2 separate regions of the Homo sapiens genome follow, and region 1 is linked to region 2. The links come from fine-mapping of genetic effects on gene expression. A gene starts in region 2. The other region holds a variant in brackets. All regions are shown on one strand. Distances are between the middles of the regions.

Region 1 (9,521 bases), 270 kb after region 2:
CTGGGGCTCTATGCTTCATGGAGCCAGCGGGATCTGGGGACAAGCAGGAGCTCCGCCACTTCTGAGTTGGTGGGGCAGGAGCTCCCTGGATGCAGCCACAGCCACCCAAATCATGGCTGCAAACCTGGGCCTCCTGCTGCATGGAGGAGGCAAAAGCCCTGGCACCCCGAATGCTGTGGACCTGAGCCTCCCTGTGCTCTTAGGGAGGCCAGAACTAGGCAGCAGCCCTGACTGCCTAGGCACAGCTGCAACCACCCACACTACAGCTGCAGACCCAGACTACCCTGCACTCTTGGGGGCCCAGGAAGGTCCCACCTGCCCTCACAGGCTCAGAAATCCCTGCTGCTGCTGCTGACTGGCTTTCTGCCTGCTGTTGGCACCTGCTTTGATCTCAGAACAAAGTTGGGGCCAAACCTGGGTGCTGTCGCAGCCCAGTCAGATGTACACATGCTCAGTGCAGTGCTGACATGCCAGCCCCCTGCCAGCTCAGCCCCCTCCAGACATTGGGCACTGATGTGCCTAGGAGGGAAGTTGACAAGGGGCTGAGGGCAGCTCAGCACTGGCCTGCAGGTGCACCTTGGCACCTACAGCCTGGGTGCCATGAATGGCAGCAGGAGGCACACAGGTTCCTGGGAGGAAGGGGGTGGGTCCCTGGTGAGGCCCCACCTTGAGGCCAGGGAGACCCTGAAGACTGGGGGCCAAGCATGCCAGTCCCATGGACCATAGTGGGAACTTGTGGTGTCTTTTGTATGCCTGCCCGTGGCTGCCCATGGACCAACTGGTGCTCATTTCCTCCCCTCTGAGGCCCATTAAAGCCCTGGGCTCAGCCAGAGCTGAGCAGATGTCGGGACAACCAGCTGCAGAGAGGAGCAACCCACTCTAGGGCCTCTTCTCTGCTGAGAGCTGCAGAGTTGATGGAGAGATGACAGGGAGATGACAGGATGACCTGCCTGCAGAGGGGAGCCACCCACTCTAGGGTATCCTCTCTCCTGAGAGCTGTATAGACGACGAGACAACCACCTGCAGAGAGGCGCTACCCTCTCTGCTAGGATCTGAACACCCATCAGGACAACCTGGCTGCAGAAAGGAGCTGCCCCCTGTGGGTTTCCTCTGAGATGTTATATTGCTCAATAAAGCTCCTCTTTGTCTTGTTCACCCTCCACTTATCTACGTACCTCATTCTTCCTGGTCTCAGTACAAGAACTTGGGACCCACTGAATGGTGAGGCTAAAAGAGCTGTAACACAAACAGGGCTGAGACATGCTTCCCCCTTGCTCTCCATGTTGCAGGCAAAGAGAAGGAAAGAAGAGCTGCAGCCCTTTGGGGATCCCAGACCTGGGAGCTCCCCAAGACTGGCCCGTGATTCCTTCTTTGGGGCCCTGCAGTTCCTGGCATCTCCAAGCTTCCAGCCACCACCATATTCCCTGGCGCCAGCCATGGAAGCTGCTTGCGGTGCACCTGGTCCAGCCTTAGCCTAGCAGAGAGCCAGTGCCCATGCCAGCACCTGAAGCTGCCTGGCCCACTGAAGCAGCTGGCATGTCTGACTGTGCACACTGGTCAGACCCCATGCTTGCTCATACACCCTACGCCATTCCGCACCTGACTCACCCTTAGCAGGCATGGGAACCAGGCCAGTAACGTAAGCTGAAAACAGCCTGCTGGGCCAAGTGGACAAAATGAGCCCAGCAGGCCCAAGCAAAACTCAGGCAAAGGCACCGCCAGCCACAGAGGTTTCCAGTGAGAAAAACAACACCCCAAAGATCCTGTAATATTTTGGGGGCTCATCCAGGATCTGTGGAAGGGTAAGTAAAAGCAGATCTGCTCTTTCTGTCCTTTTTTGGAGTCCCTAAATTCCACAATAGCTAAAATGAAAGAAAAATGCCAGCCTCTGTCAGCCAGTTAAAAGCAACTAGTGTGGCTGCTGGACTTAAGACACAGAGGACAGGCTCGCTGGGGAGGACACTGTCAATCCCCCATCACCCTCAGGTTTTGGGAATGTTGGCTTTATTCCAACCCGGTTTCCTTTCATGGAGGTCTAGCCACTGGGTGGAAGACAAAGGAGGTTGTGGGGCAACTCAGAGTATCTGGCTGAGGCTTCGCCTCGTTATCCAAAGGCCCCTGGACTAACTCCAGTCCCCGACTGCCCATTAGGGTGTTGCCACTAGAACCTCCCATCTTTCCTATCTTTCTTTCTTTCCCACTCTTTCTTTCTTTCACGGCTGTCAAAGTTCCTATCTCTACTTTATATACAACGTCGAATGTTAAGGATGTTGTTGCAAACCAGAAATATTACTGGGTAGAATAAGCATTTGGCTTAGTCTTCAAAAGTATAAAATGGAAGGTTAAGAGTAGCACAGATGAAGCAAAGTGGGCCTTGGTATCTGTACATAAATTTGTGGTGAAAATGTTCTTGTCATTTCCTTGGTTGCCAATTTAGTGCCAAGAACCTTGAGGCACAGAAAAGAAGCATGGCCCCAGGAAGGAAGCTTTTCTGTAAATGCAAGGGCAAATGGTCCAAGGTCCCATACATGCAGGCCTTTTTTGCCTTGCAGGGTAATCCAAACCTTTGCTGATGTGGTAGGATTGAATCAGCTCACCTCATGGCCATCTCAGGAGAGCCTGCAAAGGGCAATCCCAGGGAAATAGGGAAGCAAACCCCAGAGGTACCTCCAGTGGGGGAATCAACCCCCTCCACTGTTTTCTCTCAAGCTTGGCCCAGCCTAGAAATCCTCATTTTAGGCAGGTCCCAGTCACAACTGCCCCTACAACAGATGCCTGGTGAATATGGCCCCATTAAGGTCCAGGTTCCCTTTTCTCTACAGGACTTAAGGCAAATTAAGGGGGATCTTGGCAAGTTTTTAGACAGCTCTAACAGGTATATAGGGGCTTTCCAGAACTTAACCAAAGTATTTGAGCTCTCCTGGAAGGATGTCATGTTACTTGTTTTTTTTTGAGACAGAGTCTCACTCTGTCACCCAGGCTGGAGTGCAATAGCGTGATCTCAGCTCACTGCAACCTCTGCCTCCCAGATTCAGGCAATGCCTCAGCCTCCTGAGTAGCTGGTATTACAGGTGTCCACCACCATAACCGGCTAATTTTTGTATTTTTAGTAGAGACAGGTTTCACCATGTTGGCCAGGCTGGTCTCAACCTCCTGACCTCAGATGATCTGCCTGCCTTGGCCTCCAAAAGTGCTGGGATTACAAGTGTGAGCCACTGCACCAAGCCTCATGTTACTTTTGAATCAAACCCTGACCACCGCTGAAAAGCAGGCCACCCTGCAAGTGGCAGAGAATTTGGGGAATGAGCCATATATATATATATATATATATATATATATATATATATTTTTTTTTTTTTTTTTTTTTTTTTTTTTTTTAAAGACGGAGTCTCACTCTGTCACCCAGGCTGGAGTGCAGTGGTGCAATCTCAGCTCACTGCAAGCTCCACCTCCCAGGTTCACACCATTCTCCTGCCTCAGCCTCCTGAGTATCTGGGACTACAGGTGCCCACCACCATGCCCGGCTAATTTTTTGTATTTTTAGTAGAGACAGGGTTTCACCATGTTAGCCAGGATGGTCTCGATCTCCTGACCTCATGATCCACCTGCCTCAGCTTCCCAAAGTGCTGGGATTACAGGCGTGAGTCACTGTGCCTGGCCAATGAGCTTTATATCTTATATAGGACCAGGAAAGGGTATGAGACTTATCTGATTGGAAAAATAGCAGTACCATTGGAGGTTGAAAATTGGACCCCAATGATGAAATAGGAGAATAGAAGAGGAAACACTTTCAGGTGTGTATACCGGAGGGCTTATGAAGGACAAGGACTAAGGCCCTGAATTACACCAACCTATTCATGGTAGAATAGGGATTTGATGAGAATCCCACTGGCTTCCTGGAAAGGCTAAGAGGGAGGGGCCTTGGTAAAACACACCTCTCTATCTCCTGATTCAGTAGCAGAATAGCTGGTCCTAGGCACTGACTTTATCACACAGGTGGCCCCTGATGTCAGGAGGGGGCAGCAGAAACGGGCTGTGGGACCAGATGGTACTTTGGAGGGCTTCCTGGTAGGAGCCACGTTGGTCTTTTGCAGTGGGAACTGGGAGGAAGTCCAGAAAAGAGGGGAGATACAGGAAAAAGGCAGAGGCTCTAATAGCTGCTCTGTGGGCTCATGGACCCCAGAGTCCCTGATATGCACCTGTTGACTACTGCAAATGTGGCAGGCCAGGTCATTTTAGGAGGGACTGTCTGGACAGTGTGGGGAGGCCACCTCGACCCTGTCCAGTTTGTGATGAGGACAATTAGAGGGCGGACTATCCCTGGAGACACGGGTCACCCGGTCCAGGGCCGGCCTCCCTTATAGTGCAG[C/T]GGGACTGACAGGCTCTGGGGCTCCTCTCCCCAGCTCCGGTTGTTCAGACTACCATTGCCACCCAGGAGCCCCAGGTGATTCTGGGCATCAAGGGAAGGAGGGTTGACCTCCTTCTGGACTCTGGAGCAGGTCTTTCAGTTCTCCTCTTCAATCTAGGCCCTCCTCCTCCTTTGGCACAACCGTGAGGGGCATCTCAGGTCTCCTTCTGCCACTGTCATAGTCCTGTGAATACAGGAAGCTTTTTCTTGCAACAGGTTAGCTTTTTTTCCTTTCAGGAGGCACCTTATTAGGCCAGGTCCCCAATTCCTGGGACTCCCATTCTCTCCCTTGTTTGAGGAGGAACTGGTCCCACAGCTTCACCTGCTTATGATAGGGAGGCAACAGAGGAGCAGCCCCAGCCAGTTGCTAGCTGCAATTTGGTGAGGGCTGCCTGGGACTAATTTAATGGGCCCATACACCCTCTTGAGGCACCTTTTTGTCCCAAGGTTTCTGATAATTTTGGAGATTGTGAACAGGAGTTTCTTTGAGTGAACGGAACTAACAGAAGACTGAAGTAATCTTTTTTGACATTTTGCTTGAACCATTGATGATCCTTCGTTTTGTTTTTCAGAATCAAGGAAGCTTTCCTTTTGAGATATTTGTAGCTTTTGACAGTTGTGAGGGTGAACCAACCAGTGATCTCTGACTGCAGCTCAGAAGAAACAAAAAGGATGGGCCGTCAAACTCCAATGGTCATGCAAATGGAGCCTCGGACAATGGCTCCCTTTTACTGGAGACCCTTATATAGGCCCCTGAGAGAAAACCTGACTGCCATTTTCCCAAAAACAATGCCCCCTGTCAGCATGAAGCAGTTAAGAATGGTCACTGTCCCTATCCTAACGGCAGTTAGATGTACCTCTACAGAGTGGTGATTGATGGCAGTGGTGGGCCATCTAGAGTGGCCGCTGCCATCACACAGGCTGCAGCAGGGAGGTACAGCCAGAGCTGTATACTCCATGCAGCTGGTGGGAGCCTCAGACAAGTGGGAGCCCTGCCCCTTCTGATTTGTTAGGGTGGGAGCTCCCCAGGTGCAGACACAAGTCTGCCCAAGTTATGGCTGCAAACTGGGCCTCCCAAAGCACAGAGCAAGAAGAAGCCCCACCCCCTGGGGCACAGGTTAAGCTGCCCAAGTCATGGCTGCAGACCCAGGCCTCCCTGTGCTCTTGGGGGTGCTGGGAGCAGGGAGGAGCCCTGTCCTCCTAGGCGTGGCTGCAGCCACCCAAGTCGTGACTGCAGAGCATGACCTCCCACTCCACAGAGCAGGACCCCCACCCCCTGGATGCAGCTGCAGACACCCAAACTGTGGCTGTGAACCCAGGCATCCCTGCACTCTTGGAGACCCAGGATGGTCCTCTCCCCCTGCCCTCACAGGCTTGGAAGTGCCTGCTCCTGCCGCCTGGCTTCTCCCTGCTGTCGGTACCCACTCCGATCTAAGAGCAAAGTCATGGTCAAGCCTGAGCTCTGTCACAGCCCAGCCAGGTGTGTACATGCTCAGGGAAGTGTTGACACACCAGCCCCCTGCCACTTCAGCCCGCCTCTGGACCTTGGGTGCCAAAGAGCACAGGAGGGAAGCTGAGGGGGTGATAAGGGCAGTTTGGCACTGGCCTGCAGGTGCCCCTTGGCACGTACAGCCTGGGTGCCATGAATGGCAGCAGGAGGCAGACAGGTTCCTGGGGGGAAGGGAGTGGGTCCCACGTGAGGCCCCACCTTCAGGCCAGGGAGGGCCTGAAGGCTGGGGGCCAGGCTGCTGCTCCCATAGACTGCAGTGGAAACTTGTGGTGTCTTTTCCAGGCCCATCCATGGCTGCCCATGGAACAATCAGTGCTCACCTCCTCCCCTCTGAGGCCCATAAAAGCCCTGGGTTCAGCCAGAGCTGAGCAGATGTTGGGATGACCTGCCTGCAGACAAAAGCTACTCTCTCTGCTGATACCTGAACACTTGTCAGGATGAATTGCCTAGCAGAGAGGAGCTACCCTCTCTGCTAGGAGCTGAACACTCATCAAGACACCCTGGCTGCAGAAAGTAGCTGCCCCCTGCAGGTTTCCTCTGAGCTGTTCTATCACTCAATAAAGCTCCCCTTCATCTTACTCACTCTCCTCTTTTCTGCCTACCTCATTCTTCCTGGTCACAGGACAAGAACTCAGGACCCACTGAATGGCAAGGATAAAAGAGCTGTAACACAAACAGGGCTGAGACATGCCCCTTGCTTGCCTCATTGTGGGCAAAGAGAAGAAAAGAAGAGCTGCAGCCCTTTGGGGAACCCAGACCTGGGAGTTCCCCAGACCAGGGCTGTGACTCCTATTTTGGGGCCCTGTGGTTCCTGGCATCTCCGAGCTTCTGGGTGCCAATGTGTCCTCCAGTGCCAGCCGTAGAAGCTGCTTGCAGTGTGCCTGGTCTAGCTGCAGCCTCACAGAGAGCCAGAGCCCATGCCAGCACCTGGAGCTGCCCGGCCCACTGCGGCAGCTGGTACGTCTGACTGTGCACAGTGGCCGGATCCCACACTCACTCACACACTCCTCACTGTTCCATGCCTGACTCACCCTTGGCAGGCATGGGTCCCAGGCCAGTAGGGTGAGCCAAACACAGCCTGCCAGGCTGAGTAGGTGAAACAAGCCCAGTGGGCCCGAGCAAAACTCGGGCACAGGGGCCACCAGCCACAGAGGTTCCTGGCTAGAAAAACAACACCCCAAAGATCCCATAATACAATGAGATACCATCTCACACCAGTCAGAATGACTATTATTAAAAAGTCAAAAAATACCAGATGCTGGCGAGGTTGCCAAGAAAAAGGAATGCTTATACACTGCTGGTTGGAATGTAAATTAGCTCAACCATCGTGGAAAACAGTAAGGCAATTCCTCAAAGAACTGAATTCAGAACTACCATTCAACCCAGCAATCTCATTACTGGGTATATACCCAGAGGAATATAAATCATTCCACCATAAAGACACATGCACATTAATGTTCACTGCAGCACTACTCACAATAGCAAAGACATGGATTCCACCTAAATACCCATCAATGGTGGACTGGATAAAGAAAATGTGGTACATATACACCATGAAATTCTATGCAGCTGTAAAAAAGAACGAGATGATGTCCTTTGCAGGAACATGAATGAAGCTGGAAGTCATTATCCCTAGCAAACTAACACAGGAACAGAAAACCAAATACTGCATGTTCTCACATATAAGTGGGAGCTAAATAATGAGAACACATGGGCACAAAGAGGGGAATAACAGACACTGGGGCCTGCTTGAGGGACGCAGGAGGGAGGAAGAAAGAGAATCAGGAAAAATAGCTATCAGGTACTATGCTTAGTGTACTTGGGTAACAAAATGGTCTGTACACCAAACACCCATGACATGCGTTTGCCTGTATTAACAAACCTGCACATGTACCCCAGCCTGAACTAAAATAAAAGTTAAAAGTAAGCTGGGCATGGTAGCTCATGCCTGTAATCCTAGCATTTTGGGAGGTCCAGGCAAGTTAATTGCTTGAGCCCAGGAATTTGGGGCCAGCCTAGGTAACATGGTGAAACCCCATCTCTACAAAAAATACAAAAAGTTGCCGGGTGTGGTGGTGTGTGCCTGTAGTTCCAACAACTTTGGGGGCTGAAGCAGGGGGATTGCTTGAACCTGGGAGGTCAAGGCTACAGTGAGCACTGAGCTGAGACTACACCACTGCACTCCAGTCTGGGTGACAAGATGAGACCCTGTCTCAAAAAAAAGAAAAGAAAAAAAGTTTAATTTTTAAAAAGTTAAAAATAAATAAATACATTTTAAAAATAATCTCTCCCTCACAAAGCATCAGAAAAACAGACTTTACACTTCACATAATTTTATATTTTCTGTGTTTGCTTCATTCAGCAAATATTTATTGAATAACTACTAGGTACAAGATCTTGTATCTAGGTTAAAATTTTATTGACACATTTATTCATTTCTTCCCAAGGACTAAGGTCTTTCGTAATGCCGATGCCCTCCAAACATTCTACACTTTACTTAGATCAGTTGGCAGGATTAAAAGGTCTTCCTGTTAATAATCAGCTTGAAAAAAATTCTTTAAAACAGTGTTTGGCCACAAGAAACTTCCCAGCAATATCCATTACCCTCAAAATTAGCGCAATCTGGTTCCACTTTGTATAATAAAATAATGTGTTGTTTTTCAATTGCTATTGACCCCAGGTTGCAAGTTATATAAACTGAGTGTGCCCAGGTGAACCAAGAATGCAACCATGGGCAGCATCTAAATGCCTGAACCAAGGAAAGGGGATGGAATTAAGAAGTCGACACCAGGCCAGGCAGAGTAGCTCACACCTGTAATGCCAGTGCTTTGGGAGGCCGAGGTGTGAAGATTTCTTGAGGCCATGAATTTGAGACCAACCTAGGCAACACAGCAAGACCCTATCTCAACAAAAAAAGAAAAAAAAAGCAAGAGGACACTTCATGGCATGATCCATGATCCAATCAGATTGAACCCTGGCATCATCCCATGGCATGATCCAATCAGATCATGCCTCCTGGCATTACTGCATTGCAAGATCCAATCAGATCATGCCTCATTACCATCTTCAGACTCCAGCTTGAAAGACAAATTTGAACATTGCCTCCTGTCTTGTGGCCAGTCAATTTGCAATAAAGCTTTGTTTTCTCAAAAGCTGGTGCAATAGTATTGGCTTTTATGCATATCAGGCAGCAAGCCATTTCTTGCTAGGTAACAATGAGAACATAGAAAAGCAGATTTAAATTACTAGTCCCTATTGAAAATATATAGTTTATTTTTTAATTCAACAAGTGCTTTTTACTGTTTTATATAAGGTATAGTAATATGTGTGTAAAGTAGTTCCTATAGAGATTACACAGACCATGACATTTTATTTTTATTATTAAATATTTGAAGAATACAAAATATTATAGACAATATTGATTATCACCTATACTGATGTATCTAACCCATAAGGTGATGAAATAATCTGTACAACAAAACCCCCTGACATGAGTTTACCTATATAACAAACCTGCACATGTACCCCTGAACCTAAAAGTTAAAAAAAAAAAAAAAAAAAGGCCAGCGTGGTGGCTCATGCCTGTAATCCCAGCACTTTGGG
Region 2 (9,521 bases):
TAACCATCCAGATTTCCCACCCCATTTACTCATCAGTGTTGGCCTGAGTTCTTTTGGCTATTTGCATAAATCCAATCCACCTGCAGATAATGAATATTCATTGCATTGTGTGTTATAGACTCTGAAGGAGATTCTTGTTGTTTTGAGCAGTGTCCTCATTAAAACAAAGCTAAAAGCTTCTTGAATGACTATCTTGAAATGACAGCACTCATTTGGATGATAAGTTGTAATGTGTTTATGGACAGCCAGTCTCATTACCATACACTTCATTTATATATTTTAATAGTCAGTGGTCAGTGATCTTCTGAAATTAGTTCCCCTGGATTTGCTTTAGTGAAAACCAAAGAGCAAGCTCTGAATGATGAGAATGGGGCCTGATAAAAAAAAATGAAGTATGTGTATATATATGTGTATATATACCTACACATAAAAAAATACATATACATATCTATACATATATATTAGCCTTTATTTTATTTTATTTATTTATTTTGAGACAGGGTCTCACTCTGTCACCTAGGCTGCACAGTGGTGCAATCACAGCTCATTGCAGTCTTGACTTCCCAGGCTCAGGTGATTCTCCCACGTCAACCTCCCAAGTAGCTGGGACCACAGGTGCATGCCACCACACCTGGCTAATTTTTTTTTTTTTTGTATTCTTTGTAGAGACGGGGTTTCACTATGTTGCCCAGGCTGGTCTCAAACTCCTAGGCTCAAGTGATCCACCTGCCTCGGCCTCCCAAGACATTGGGATTACAGGCATGAGCCACTGCACCTGCCCAATTTATTCATTTTTTTAGCAACAAGGTCTTACTCTGTCACCCAGGGTGGAGTGCAGAGGCATGATCATGGCTCACTGCAGGCTCAACCTCCCAGACTCAAGTGATCGTCCCATCTCAGCCTCCTGAGCAGCTGGGACTACAGGCACGTGCCAACACACTTGGCTAATTTTTGTATTTTTGTAAAGACAGAGTCCTACTATGTTGCCCAGGCTGGTCTTGAATTCCTGGGCTCAAGCCATCCTCAGACCCGGTCTCCTAAAGTGCTGGGATCACAGGTGTGAACCACTGAGGCTAGCCAACTTTATTTTTAGAAACATTACATGTACAGAAAAATTGAAAAGATAATATGGTGAATTCCTATATACCCTACATTCAATTTCCTCAATTATTATCTGACATTAGTATGGTACATTTAGCACCATTAATGAAACAGTATTGAAACATTATTATTAACTAAAGTCTACAGTTTATTCAGATTTCCTTTGAGTTTTTGTTGTTGTTGTTGTTGTTTAGACTGAGTCTTACTCTGTCACCGGGCTGGAGTGCAGTGGCACTGATCTTGGCTCACTGCTGCAACCTCCGCCTCCCAGGTTCAAGTGATTCTCCTGCCTCAGCCTCCTGAGTAGCTGGGTTTACAGGTGCCCGCCATACGCCCAGCTAATTTTTGTATTTTTAGTAGAGACGGGGTTTCACTATGGTGGCCAGGCTGGTCTTGAACTCCTGATCTCGTGATTCGCCCGCCTTGGCCTCCCAAAGTGCTGGGATTACAGGCGTGAGCCACCATGCTCAGCCTCCGTGTTTTTTTTTGTTTTCTTATTTTTTGAGACGGAGTCTTGCTCTGTCGCCCAGGCTGGAGTGCAGTGGAGCGATCTCAGCTCACTGCAAGTTCCGCCTCCCAGGTTCACACCACTCTCCTGCCTCAGCCTCCTGAGTAGCTGGGACTACAGGTACCTGCCACCACGCCCGACTAATTTTTTTTATTTTTAGTAGAGACGGGGTTTCACCATGTTAGCCAGGATGGTCTCCATCTCCTGACCTCATGATCCGCCCGCCTCAGCCTCCCAAAGTGCTGGGATTACAGGCATGAGCCACCGTGCCCAGCCTCGTTTTTTTAAACTAATGTGTTTTTCTGTTCCAGGATCCCATCTAGACCACCACATTATGTTTAGTTCTCAAAAACATAATGGGCTGGGCATGGTGGCTCATGCCTGTAATCCCAGCACTTCGGGAGGCCGAGGCGGGCAAATCACCTGAGGTCGGGAGTTCAAGACCAGCTTGACCAACATGGAGAAACCCCATCTCTACTAAAAATATGAAATTAGCTGGGCGGGGTGGCACACACCTGTAATCCCAGCTACTTGGGAGGCTGAGGCAGGAGAATCGCTTGAACCTGGGAGGGGGAGGTTGCGGTGAGCCAAGTTTGTGCCATTGCACTCCAGCCTGCTCAACAAGAGTGAAACTCTGTCTCAAAAAACAAAAACAAAAAAGCCCATAATGATGTTTGGATGACTTTGACAGCTTTGAGGAGTACTGGTCAGGTATTTTGTAGGATGCCTCTATTGGAATTTGTCTAATGTTTTTCTCAAGATTAGAGTGGTGTTATGGGTTTTGGGAAGGAAAACCACAGAGTTAAAATGCCATTTTCATCTCATGTTATCAAGGGTACATAGTATCAACATGATTGATGCTGACTTCCCTAGGTCAGCTGAGGGAGTGTGTGTGTGAAATACAGGATGACCATATCAGCACTGTTGGCCTAGACTTTTCCTTCTGAGAATGAAATCTCTTCTCTTGCCCATAGCTCAGCCCCATTTTGACTTTTTTTTTTTTTTTTTGAGACAAGAGAGGCTCGCTCTGTCACCCAGGCTGGAGTGAAGTGGCATGATCTCGGCTCACTGCAACCTCTGCCTCCTGGGCTCAAGCAATTCTTCTGTCTCAGACTCCTAAGTAGCTGGGATTACAGGAACCTGCCACCATGCTGGGCTAATTTTTGTATTTTTATTAGAGATAGGGTTTTGCTGTGTTGGCCAGGCTGGTCTCGAACTTCTGGCCTCAAGTGATCCTCCCACCTCAACCTCCCAAAAGTGCTGGGATTACAGGCATGAGCCACCATGCCCAGCCCATTTTGACTTTTTTTTTTTTTCTCTTTTGAGACAGAGTCTTGCTCTGTCACCCAGTCTGGAGTGCAATGGGGCGATCTTGGCTCACTGCAGCCTCCGCCTCCTGGGTTCAAGGGATTCTCCTGCCTCAGCCTCCTGAGTAGCTGGGCTTACAGCCACCTACCACCATGCCTGGCTAATTTTTGTATTTTTAGTAGAGACGGGGTTTTGCCATGTTGGCCAGGCTGGTCTCGAACTCCTGACCTCAGTTGATCCACCCGCCTCGGACTCCCAAAGTGTTAGGATTACAGACCTGAGCCACCATGCCCGGCCCATTTTGACTTTTAAAAAGGTCCTTGTTTTAGACCAGGTGCAGTAGCTTACTCCTGTAATTTCAGTAATTTGGGAGGCCAAGGTGGGATAATCACTTGAGGCCAGGAGTTTGAGGTCAGCCTGGGCAACATAGCAAGATATTGTCTCTACAAAAAGTAATTAAAAAAAATTAAGCCAGACATAGTGGCTCATGCCTGTAGTCCCAGCTACTTGGGAGATTGAAGTGGGAGGATCATTTGATCCTGGGAGTTCGAGGCTGCAGTGAGCTGTGGTTACACCACTGCATTCCAGAAGGGTTACAGAAGGAGACCTTGTCTCAATAACAACAACAACAACAACAACAACAATGAAACAAACAAATAGCTGGGCATGGTGGTGCATCCCTGTAGCCCAACCTATCTAGGAAGCTGAGGTGGGAAGATGGTTTAAGTCCAGGAATTCAAGGTTACACTGAGCTGTGATGGTGCTGTTGCACTCCAGCTTGGGTGTCAGAGAATGACCCTGTCTCTAAAAACATTAAAAAAAAAAATTCTTGTTTTGAAAGCTTGAACCTTCCCCAGGAGATGCCCCCTTCCTTGAATTCCTCAATTCATTTGGCTCTATCATCTGTAGTTTTCCTACCCATCACCATCAGATCCTCTTAAAAAAAAAGTTTCAATTTCTACTAACAGTTTCTGAACACCTGGATCTCTGCTGGGCCCTGTGTTAAATCATTGAATGGGAAGCAGCTAATCCATATAAATAACTCCGGCTTTGGAGTCAGTAGGATTTAGGTTGGGATCACAGACCAGATGAACTATGAAATCTTGGGCAGGTTCCTGTGGCTGTCTTGGCTTTGGCTTCTTAAATGGAGAGAATTATATTTGTCTCACAAGATGATAAGAGGAATAAATGAATCTTTCTTAATCCTAACATTAATTTTACTTCCAAAAATAAAAATCCTATGAATACATTTTTAAAAGCTAATGTTTATGCTTATAAAATATTGACACACACTTTTTTGTGACTTCTATTTTAAATCCTTTAGGACTTTGGAGAACCACACTTTTGTCAGTCGACTTTAAAAATCGTCCTATCAGGGTCCTACTCATAAAGCGATCTCAATTGTAGGCGTCTCATAACAGAAAGGTCGTGATAAAAAGTAACCGAAAGAAAACGGAAGGAACTTCAGACAGCTTCTATGGAAATACCGAGTTTGGTCAAGGAGGCCTCTCCCATTCCGATTTTCTATTGGTTAAACTTACCATCAATCACACCAGTTGTAAATAAACTGAAGACGGAAGCATGTTGTTAGCGGGGTGGGATCTTCCTGTCGCCACTGCTAGGGTGAGAACCCATTTTCCAATAGGCTGAAAGCTGCTTTTCCCGCCCTCTCTCTTCAGTTGCTAAGGGGCGGGACTCATAGGGCCCTTGGAGGGCTGGGTGCTCGAAGCCCTGCCCATCCCATTGGTTGATAGGGGCGGGTTTCGTAGAGGATAGGCTGCTGTCGTTGCCCGTTCGGAGTTAGTTGCTGGGGTAAGGCACGTGAGGAGGAGGTGGCTTGAGGCAACCATGGCGGGAGGAATGAAAGTGGCGGTCTCGCCGGCAGTTGGTCCCGGGCCCTGGGGCTCGGGAGTCGGGGGCGGTGGGACAGTGCGGCTACTCTTGATCCTCTCCGGCTGCTTGGTCTACGGCACAGGTACCGCCCGGGCAGCAGCTGCCAAGGGGGCAGGTGCCGAGGGGGTTATTTTTGGAAAAGGGATTGTCCCGAGGGCGCGGGCCGTTACTCTGCAGAAGGGCGGTGGCTCTACCGAGGGCCGCCGGCGTAGTGTGGTGGAAGAAACTTGGCAGGCTAGTGGGCGTCGGGACTGAGGGTCTGGGCCCTGAAGCGGGCTGGGGCAGCTTCCAGAGTGGGGAGGAGCCTGAAGCCTTTTGGCGGAGACAGGAAGGGAGGCCTAGACTGGTTGAGAAGCAGTCCTGGGGGCTGTGTCTCGTTGCAGAAGCCTTGAGTTTCTTGGTTAAAAGCGAGAAAACCTGGGGACCATTCTGGGCAGGCAGAGCAGCCGCGGGAAAGGGACCATCTCATTCATTCGGCAAATCAGCAAACACCATCTGAGCGTATGCTCTGTCAGGACGCAGGGCACGGGTGGCAGAACGGATGTAGTTGACAGAAATGCAGTGATCTCTACTATCTTCTGCTCTTGTAAAACCTTGATTCCTTACCGCCCCCGGCCCGCGAGATGGAGTCTAGCTCTGTCACTCAGGCTGGAGTGCAGTGGTGCGATCTCGCTCACTGCAACCTCCGCCTCCTGGGTTCAAGCAATTCTCCTGCTTCAGCCTCCGGAGTAGCTGGGATTACAGGCACCCGCCACCGCGCCCGGCTAATTTTTGTATTTTTAGTAGAAATGGGGTTTCACTATGTTGGCCAGGGTGGTCTCGAACTCCTGACCTCGTGATCCATCCGCCTTGGCCCTCCCAAAGTGCTGGGATTACAGGTGTGAGCCACCGTGACCGGCCAAATAATGCATGTTTATTTTAGATGATTTGGCAAGGTACAATTAAGTATAAAGAAGCAGGCAGAAACCACACTGTTAATCCATTCAGAAGCAATCTATTTTAGCACACTTTCTTCTGATCTTTTTCCACATATTTTTAATTTTTTATGAATTGATAATTTGTATCCAGTTAGTACTCTAGTTCTCTTCCCTGGAGGCTGCCAGTCGTTACCAGAGATAGTTTTCTCGTTTGATTTTGTAGTACAATAATTTTCCCAAGTAATTTAAAATTCTTTTTTTGTTTTTTTGTTTGTTTGTTTGTTTGAGATGGAGTTTTGCTCTTGTTGCCCAGGCTGGAGTGCAGTGGTGCAATCTCAGCTCACTGCAACCTCCGCCTCCTGGGTTTAAATGATTCTCCTGCCTCAGCCTCCTGAGTAGCTGGGATTACACTTGCCCGCCACCACGCCCGGCTAATTTTTTTTTTTTTTTTTTAAACAGAGTCTCCCTCTTTCGCGCAGGCTGGAGTGCAGTGGCCAGATCTCGGCTCACTGCAAGCTCCGCCTCCCAGGTTCACGCCATTCTCCTGCCTCAGCCTCCCGAGTAGCTGGGACTACAGGCGCCCACCACCACGCCCGGCTAATTTTTTGTATTTTTAGTAGAGAGGGGGTTTCACCGTGTTAGCCAGGATGGTCTTGATCTCCTGACCTCGTGATCCGCCCGCCTCGGCCTCCCAAAGTGCTGGGATTACAGGCATGAGCCTCCACACCCGGCCTTAAAATTCTTTGTAAATGTTGTCTTACTTGTATTACATTCCAATGTATGTGCAGATGTTCATTTAATTTTTTTTCTCCACCCCCCGCCCGCCCCGCCCCGCAGAATGTAGTCTTGCTGTCTGGCCCAGGCTGGAGTGCAGTGGTGCAATCTCGGTTCCTGTTTCAAGCCATTCTCCCATCTCAGCCTCCCAAGTAGCTGGGACTACAGGCATGTGCCACCACACTCGGCTAATTTTTTTTTTTTTGAGACAGAGTTTCGCCCTCGTTGCCTAGGCTGGAGTGCAATGGCACTATCTAGGCTCACTGCAACCTCAGCCTCCAGAGTTCAAGCACTTCTCCCTCTGCCTCCCGAGTAGCTGGGATTATAGGCGCATGCCACCATGCCTGGCTAACTTTTTGTATTTTTTGTACAGACGGGGTTTCACCAGGCTGGCCAGGCTGGTCTCAAACTCCTGACCTCGTGATCTGCCCACCTCAGCCTCCCAAAGTGCTGGGATTACAGGCGTGAGCCACCACGCCCAGCCACACTCAGCTAATTTTGTATTTTTAGTAGAGATGGGGTTTCACCATGTTGGCTAGGTTGGTCTCGAACTCCTGACCTCAGGTGTTCCGCCCGCCTCAGCCTACCAAAGTACTGGGATTACAGGCGTGAGCCACCATGCCTGGCCTTCATTTATTATTTTTTAGTGACGTGGTTTTGCTGTGACACCCAGGCTAGAGTGCAGTGCACAATCATAGCTCACTGTAACTTCCCACCTCGGTCTCCCCAAGTAGCTGGGACTACAGGCACGTGCCATCTGCCTGGTAAAAATCATTATTAATGTTGTGGATTAAACATTTGGTTGGATATTGGTGGTTTGTACTGTTGGTTGGATATTTGTGGTATTTCTAGTTTTTCATTGTTGTAAGTTTGTGAACATCTTTGTGTATACATTTTTATTTATTTATTTATTTATTTTTTTGAGATGGAGTCTTGCTCTGTTGCCCAGGCTGGAGTGCAGTGGTGCCATCTCGGCCACCTAGGTTCAAGCGATTCTCCTACCTCACCCTCCCGAGTAGCTGGGATTACAGGTGTGTGCCACCATGCCCGGGTAATTTTTTTGTATTTTTAGTAGAGTGGGATTTCGCCATGTTGGCCAGGCTGGTCTCAAACTCCTGACCTCAAGTGATCTGCCCGCCTCAGCCTCCCAAAGTGCTGGGATTACAGGTGTGTGCCACCATGCCCGGGTAATTTTTTTGTATTTTTAGTAGAGTGGGATTTCGCCATGTTGGCCAGGCTGGTCTCAAACTCCTGACCTCAAATGATCTGCCCGCCTCAGCCTCCCAAAGTGCTGGGATTACAGGTGTGAGCCACCGTGCCTGGCCTTATTTTTTTTTCTTTTTTTTTTTGTAGAGATGGGGTTTCATCATGTTGGCCAGGCTGGTCTCAAACTCCTGAGGTCAGGCAATCCCCTCACCTTGGCTTCCCAAAGTCCTGGGACTACAGGCGTGAGCCACCACGCCTGGGCCCAACTATTTATTTATTTATTTATTTATTTATTTATTTATTGATATTGAGATGGAGTCTTGCTCTGTCGCCCAGGCCGGAGTGCAGTGGTGTGATCTTGGCTCCCAACTATTTATTTATTTATTTATTTATTTATTTATTTATTTATTTATATTGAAATGGAGTCTTGCTCTGTCGCCCAGGCTGGAGTGCAGTGGTGTGATCTTGGCTCACTGCAAGCTCCACTTCCCGGGTTCATGCCATTCTCCTGCCTCAGCCTCCCAAGTAGCTGGGACTACAGGCGCCCGCCACCGTACCCAGCTAATTTTTTTTGTGCTTTTAGTAGAGATGGGGTTTCACCTTGTTAGCCAGGATGGTTTCAATCTGCTGACCTGGTGATCCACCTGCCTCGGCCTCCCAAAGTGGTGGGATTACAGGTGTGAGCCACGGCGCCCAGCCCCTTATTTATTTTTTTGAGACGTAGTCTTGCTCTGTCACCCAGGCTGGAGTGCAGAGGCGCGATCTCGGCTCACTGCAGTCTCCCCTCCCAGGTTCAAGCGATTCTTCTGCCTCAGCCTCCCAAGAAGCTGCGATTACAGGTGCCCGCCACCATGCCCAGCTGATTTTTTTGTATTTGTAGTAGAGACGGGGTTTCACCATGTTGGCCAGGCTGGTTTTGAACTCCTGACCTCAAGTGATCCGTCTGCCTTGGCCTCCCCAAGTGCTGGGATTTCAGGTGTGAGCCACCATGCCCGGCTGGACAGTGGTCACTTTTAAATCTTGAATTAGCTGATATTAAATACAAATTGAGAGGAGAATCTTCTGTTTTGGTAAATCAGAGGGACTGCATGTAATCATTGCCTGCTGTTAAAATTTGAAGTGACACAAAACAGCTGGAAGGAAACAACCTTGAAATCTTTTAGTATCCTCCAAAAGTACTATATATTAAAAATATTGCTGGCTGGGCGTGGTGGCTTACGCCTGTAATCCCAGCACTTTGGGAGGCTGAGGTGGGTGGATCAGTTGAGGCCAGGAGTTCTAGATCAGTCTGGCCAACATGGTGAAACCCCATCTCTACTACAAAAATACACACACACAAAAAAAGTTAGCCAATTGAGTTGGCTCATGCCTGTAATGCCAGCTACTCAGGAGGCTGAGGTGGGAGAATCGCTGGAACCTGGGAGGCAGAGGTTGCAGTGAGCCAAGATCGCACCACTGTATTCCAGCCTGGGTGACAGAGTGAGACCCTGTCTGAAAAAAAAAAAAAAAAATGCTGGCTGGGCATGGTGGCAGATCTGTAATCCCAGTGCTTTGGGAGGTCAGCGTGGGTGCTTTGGGAGGCCAATGTGGGAGGATTGCTTTAGGCCAGGAGTTCAAGACCAGCCTGGGCAACATAGTAAGACCTTGTCTCTTTAAAAAAAAAAAAAACTAGCTGGGTGTGGTGGTGTATACCTGTAGTCCTGGCTACTTGGGAGGCTGAAGTGGGAGGATTGTTTGAGCCCAAGAGTTTGAGGCTGCAATGAGCTATGATCACATTACTGTACTCCAGCCTGAGCAGCAGAGCCAGACCCTGT

Which allele goes with the higher level. Positions count from the first base shown, and alleles are read on the strand shown. Sizes are in standard deviations (SD) of each study's normalised expression.
With allele T in place of C in region 1, the expression in whole blood of the gene that starts at base 4,720 in region 2 is higher (large effect, 1.7 SD a copy in TwinsUK).

What was found. PIP is the estimated chance that this variant, and not a neighbour inherited with it, causes the effect.
Region 1: its variant is the best candidate, but not a certain one, in a credible set for the expression of NEMP1 in whole blood (TwinsUK, PIP 0.85).

What each region holds. Positions count from the first base shown.
Region 1 is chr12:56,801,300-56,810,820 of GRCh38, reverse strand. No RefSeq gene overlaps it. Among named protein-coding and RNA genes, the nearest start is that of HSD17B6, 43 kb to the right of the region's middle. RefSeq lists an enhancer at 5,502-6,151. The variant C/T (reference allele first, on the strand shown) is at 4,370.
Region 2 is chr12:57,073,990-57,083,510 of GRCh38, reverse strand. It overlaps NEMP1 (nuclear envelope integral membrane protein 1), which reads left to right and starts at 4,720. Exons shown (of 9, transcript NM_001130963.2): 1 at 4,720-4,892. The coding sequence starts at 4,766. RefSeq lists enhancers at 4,746-4,795, 4,916-5,165.